Regions from separate parts of the Homo sapiens genome. Here region 1 is linked to region 2. A link means that fine-mapping ties the variant in region 2 to the expression of a gene that starts in the linked region. Tissue or cell type: iPS cells. Region 2 holds a variant in brackets; the other region holds the start of a gene. All regions are shown on one strand. Distances are between the middles of the regions.

Region 1 (2,758 bases), 120 kb before region 2:
AGCAGACGGAAAAAGTGAAGTAGTACGAGGGCGTCCCAGCGGGGCGGCCCGAGAAGCTCCAGCTTCTTCCCGAGCGGCCGCCGCTATCCCCCGGGGGGGCGTCTGGCCCCACTCCGGACCACGCCCGAGCGATCCTGGTCGCCGACTGCCACAGCCGTGCTTCCCGGCGCGGGATCCAAGCCGCGGAGCCACCTGTTAGGCGCGCGCCGTCGGAAGCCCAGGCGCGGCGGCGCTGGAGAATCCTCTCGAAGTTTCCGGGTGCGCGGGGAGGCCCCAGGTGCGCCCCGACATCCCGACACGGCCCAGCACGGGTAAGTGTCGGCGGCCCCCCGCTTCTCCTTCCTGGGTCCCCTCCCGCTGCCCCCGGCCGTGGCGGGAAGGAAAGTTGTGCGGAGAGTTGGTACCTGCGCTGAGCTCCAGGCTGGCGCTGTCGCTACCCGTGCCGCCGGTGCCGGCGGCCGCCGCCGCGCCTGGGCCATACCTGACGACAGCGGCGAACGAAGACGACGAGGAGGCGGCGGGGGACGCGGGCGGCGGCTGCGCCGGAGTCCTCAAGTGGCCCTGGGATGTGGCGGGCGTGCAGGACGGCGACGACGACGAAGCGGCGGCGGCGGCCCGGCCGGGCCCGGGGGGGTAGGAGCTCTGCGCCTGGAACTGCTGCGGCGGCGGCTCGCTGCTGCTGATGGAGACGGCGGCGTGCGGCGCGAAGGGCGGCGGGGGCGGCGGGGGCGCCCGCACGTGCGGCAGCTCCACCAGGGTGGGTCGCTCGTAGCGCTTGGCCAGCGCCGGTCTCTTGCTGGGGAACGTCTTGAGGACGCTGTAGGGGCTGCGCTGCTTGTAGATTTTGGGGACGCTGGGCCCCTCCTCTGCCGGCTGCATCTCTTCCTCCATCCGGCGCCTCGGGGCCGGTCCCTCGGAGCACGTCCCCTCCCCGCCGGGCGCCGGGCTCCGAGGGTGCCTCCGCCGCCTGCCCGCCGGGTCTGCCCTGGTGCGCGCGTGTGGGAGGGTGTGTGTCTGTGCCGTGGCCGCCGCCGCCGCCGCCTGTCGCTGAGGCTGGCATCGCCGAGCCCCCGCGCGGGGGGCTGCCGCCCGAGCTCCTGATTGACAGGCTGCCTCGCCAATGCCTGGAGGGAGAAAGGAGGTAAAGAGCAAGTGTTTAGGGTAATATCTGCTAATGATAATGGGGGCGGGGCGGGGCCTGGCGCCGCAGCCGCCCGCGGGGTCTGCCTGGCGGCTCCGCGCCTCCGACGGGGAGCGGGGGAAGGGGGAAAGCGAGGACCTGGAGGACGCCCGGGAACTGGTGAAGAAGGTGGGGATCCGGGATCTGGCTACGGCGAGACTTTAGAGACCCAGATGTGGACTCGAGGCTTCTGCGGCTGCGGGCGGGGTCCGGCTTCCGAAACGAGCTCGTGGCGCCCCCTGCATGACCCCAAACTCTCGGGGTTGCACAGAGGAGGGGCTAGTCGTTGGGGCGGGGTCGTCAGAGTACGTGTGTATTACAGCAAGTTCTTCTACCAATCGGGAATTGCTCTCCGATCCTTCTGAAAAGAACCTCTTGAAGATCTTGGCCCGGGTGGTCGCGCGGTGTTTACGGGGCTTTGGGGTCCTGCTTTCCCCGAGCATCGCGGCCTCTGAGCTCATGCGGAACATAAAAGCTCGCAAGGCGTAGAACTTTTTCACGTTTTCATTTGTTTCCCGTAGGGGCCCCGAGAACGTGCATGACACCATGATTTCCCCCCCATTATAAAGATGAGAAAACCGAGGCTCTGAGAGGTTGAAGGGAATTGCCCAAAGTCAGACACTCGGGAGTGTGCGGCTGTGTTGCACTGACGCATCCAGGTTATTTGAAGTCAACTCCTCACTTCCCATAGCCAGTAGCCTCTGTGCAATTGAGTGGGGAAATGTCCTGATACCTCCCTTTGAGGTGATGATTACTTTCAACAGTGTCATTTTTAATATATGTATATGTACTTGCAAGCCCAGGGAAACACGAGAACTCACTCCTTGCATTGTTTTACTCACTGCAACTGGCGCCATCCGGCGAGGGTCTGGAGGGTGCCCAATTTCAGTAGCCGTTTGAATGAGAGATCTCAGTCGTTGGGAGGAAGATCCTCCATGGGATGCAGATGTCCTGGTCTCTCCCAGCCACTTTTTGGGGCAGAGGGTCCATTGCTCCCTATCCCAAATCACCCCTCTTCTAGGCCAACCAGCATACCCTGCCCCAGGTTTGCTTTTCAGCCTTCCTTTTTCGTTCTCCAGGTCAGAGTTCTGGATGCTCCTTGATGTAGGACCCTCATCTCTGCACTCTGAAGTTTGTTTCCTTTTCAGAGCCTTCCTTTTATTCTTAGGAAGGTGACCCATTTTCTTCTGGGGGTTCACATCTTTTGGCCTCTCTTTCCCTGGTCTCCTTCCCTTTGGAAGCTTTTTCTCTCTGCCTTGCTGGTTCAGCTTCTGTATTATTCCCCCCTAGATTGTCTCCCTCTCTCCTGCAGCTTCCTCAGATGGTGCTGTGTCCCCCCCCCAATCCATTTATTAGAGATGAAATAAATAATGCCATAAATATAAGTATTTGGGAGTCCAGGAACTGTCAGGGCTGATTAGGGCATAGAGGACATTTTCTTTCTCATTATGCAAAAGCATTTCATGGGGAAATAAAAGAGGTTTCATTGTAACTCATGCATGTCATATTTCAAGGAATTCAAGATATTAATCATATTTAACATTATTTGCAATGTTTCTCCCTGGCTTCTGAAAACTG
Region 2 (2,758 bases):
CTGACCTCAAGTGATCCACCTGCCTCAGCCTCCCAAACAAATATATTTTTGGGTGGCATATTTTGGTTTCCTTTACCAACTGTCTACCAGGTACTGTGCTAGGTGCTTTATTAAGCTCTTTTATTTAATCTTTACTACAATCTAATATGGCAGATTTTATTGTCCTCATTTTTCAGATAAGGAAACTGGAGCCCAGAGAAGTTAACTAACATGCATTTAGTAAGTAGCAGAGGTTTGTTTTGGAGCCAGGTTGTCTCTCCACATAACATGTTTTATTTATACAATGGCCATTTATTCATTATGTACCATAAGTTCCAAGCTCTTTGATACAAAATAGGTTAAAATGGTTATGCTTTTACCTTATCTGCATGGTTGGTGACCTTGATGTTAGGTAGGCAAAATTTTACCTCTACTCTCTTAGGGCTGTTTTGGCTGGGCCTGAGAATTAAACTGACATAATGAGGCAGGAGGATCATGTGAACCCGGAAGTTCAAGGATGTAGTAGGTTATGATCATGCCCCTGCACTTCAGCCTGAACAACAGAGCGAGACCCCTATCTCTAAAAATAAAAATAAAAAAATAAAAAAATTTAAAACTAAACTAACATGAGACAGATTAACAGCATAAACACATACAAATTTATTTAATATAAGTTTTATGTGCCATAGGGACCCTCATAAGAAAATGAAGACCCAAAGAAGTGGCAAAATCTAAATGCTTTTATACCAGGTTGAGCAAAGAAATGCAATTTTGGGGCTGGTGTGGTGGCTCATGCCTGTAAATCCCAGCACTTTGGGAGGCCGAGGTGGGTGGATCACAAGGTCAGGAGTTTGAGACCAGCCTGGCCAACATGGTGAAACCCCATTTCTACTAAAAATACAAAAATTAGCCAGGTGTGGTGGCACGGGCCTATAATCTCAGCTACCTGGGAGGCTGAGGCAGGAGAATTATTTGAACCCGGGAGGCAGAGGTTGCAGTGAGCTGAGATGGTGCCATTGCACTCCAGCTCTGGGTGACAGAGCAAGACTCCATCTCGAAAAAAAAAAAAAAAAGAAATGCAATTGTGGAAAAGTAACTAAACTATGTGAGGAGGCTAACGGAATATAAGGATTATTTTAACAAGGTCTGTTTGTTCAGAATTCTCTTGGTCTCAACTTCCCGTTCTTGATGATGTGGGAAACCAAAATATGCCACCCCAAAATATACTTCTTTGGCATATTTTGAGTTGGTTATTCAGAGAAACTGTAGAAAGAAATAGCTCAGAAAAACTATCCTTTTGTAAAAGAAAAATTTACATTTACCCAAATTAGTGAAGCAAATGGGGGATGCAGGAAGAGGCTTTCTCTGAGGTCCTCTTATCCGGATCTAGGAAAGATCAACTTGCAGGAAAAGAAGACCTAAGGTTTGAAAGGGAAATCTTTACCATGGGCTACCATCTATTCTCTCTGAGGGCTGCTACCTGAAAGGCTTCATCTGCATAACAAGCCAGCCTTTGCTCACTGTGAGTTTCTTCCCTTCACCCTCCTATAACCTGTCACCACCTCCCC[T/C]CAGGAGCTACAGGCTCTATTTCCTTGTGTACGGTGTAAAAACTTCAGTCACCTGGCTCTTCTTTGAGTTCTCATATTCTGTGTGACTCCCATGCTTACGGATGTAATACATTTTTATGCCTTATTTTTGGTTAGTCTTTCTATTGTCAGTTTGTTTTTTTTTTCTTAATTAAAAAGAGAGATGAGGTCTCACTTTTTTGCCCAGGCTGGTCCCAGACTCCTGGGCTCAAGTGATCCTCTTGCCTTGGCCTTCCAAAGTGCTGGGATTACAGGCATGAACCACTGCACCCAGCTATCAGTTTGTCTTATAGACTCAAATTATCGAACTTTCAGAGGGGTGGGGAAAAAACTCCCTTCATTCTTACAGTGACGGGAATGTTGCTTTCCTTTGTGTATGGAGGACATTTTTCACATGGAGATTTTGTCTCCTGCTTTTGGGAAAACAAAGGGAAAAGAGTGCAGTCTTCTTGTGCTTGCTCTTGTGTGCCTGTAATCCCAACTACTTGCTTGAACCCAGGAGGCAGAGTTTACAGCGAGCCAAGATTGCACCACTGCACTCCAGCCTGGGTGACAGAGTGAAACTCCATCTCAAAAAAAAAAAAAAAAAAAAAAAAGTGCCTCTAACTCAAAATAATTTATATGCCAAAGTGGCATCTTTTGGGGTGACATATTCCACCACCCTTCACTGTTTATCTGGGGAAATCCTAGAGGGGCTATGTTTCCTGAATTCACACATTACACTCCTGAATAAACACAGAGTAAATTTTCTGAGTAAACAAGAAAAGCAGGTGGAGATACCAGCCACAGGCTCTCACCCCTCTTACCAGAGTGGTCTGCCTGATTTCCAAGGCTGCAAATACACAAACTGATGTCCTTGTATGAGAGGCTTCTTCCTTCTGCTTGTCTCACTCAACCTAAAGGGCACGGCTATAATAGAGAAAATGAGTGTCTGCCCTGAACAGCCAAGATAACCTTGAAGGGAATAAATGAACATGCATATTGATGGAGCAATTTGAGTACATATTGATTCCTGGTAGCTGGTGTCTGTATTCTTAGCTCATATAATAGGTAGTAGGAGTTCTTATAAATAAGCCTACAGAATACTTTTTTTTAAGAAACTCAACCAACCTTTGGGAGATCTTGTTATTTTTATTTACAAATAATTGATGGAGAATGCAGTGTGGCCTATGGCTTGGTGATTATTGATTTTC

Direction of the effects. Alleles are on the strand shown, and positions count from the first base shown. SD is a standard deviation of normalised expression in the study named.
With allele C in place of T in region 2, the expression in iPS cells of the gene that starts at base 1,403 in region 1 is higher (large effect, 1.1 SD a copy in PhLiPS).

What was found. PIP is the estimated chance that this variant, and not a neighbour inherited with it, causes the effect.
Region 1: BEND4 starts here. The variant in region 2 is the best candidate, but not a certain one, in a credible set for the expression of BEND4 in iPS cells (PhLiPS, PIP 0.88).

Annotation. Positions count from the first base shown.
Region 1 is chr4:42,151,253-42,154,010 of GRCh38, forward strand. BEND4 (BEN domain containing 4) reads right to left here and starts at 1,403. Exons shown (of 6, transcript NM_207406.4): 1 at 1,280-1,403; 2 at 405-1,124. The coding sequence starts at 891. RefSeq lists an enhancer at 1-720 and silencers at 486-575, 776-1,095.
Region 2 is chr4:42,269,820-42,272,577 of GRCh38, forward strand. No RefSeq gene overlaps it. Among named protein-coding and RNA genes, the nearest start is that of BEND4, 120 kb to the left of the region's middle. The variant T/C (reference allele first, on the strand shown) is at 1,548.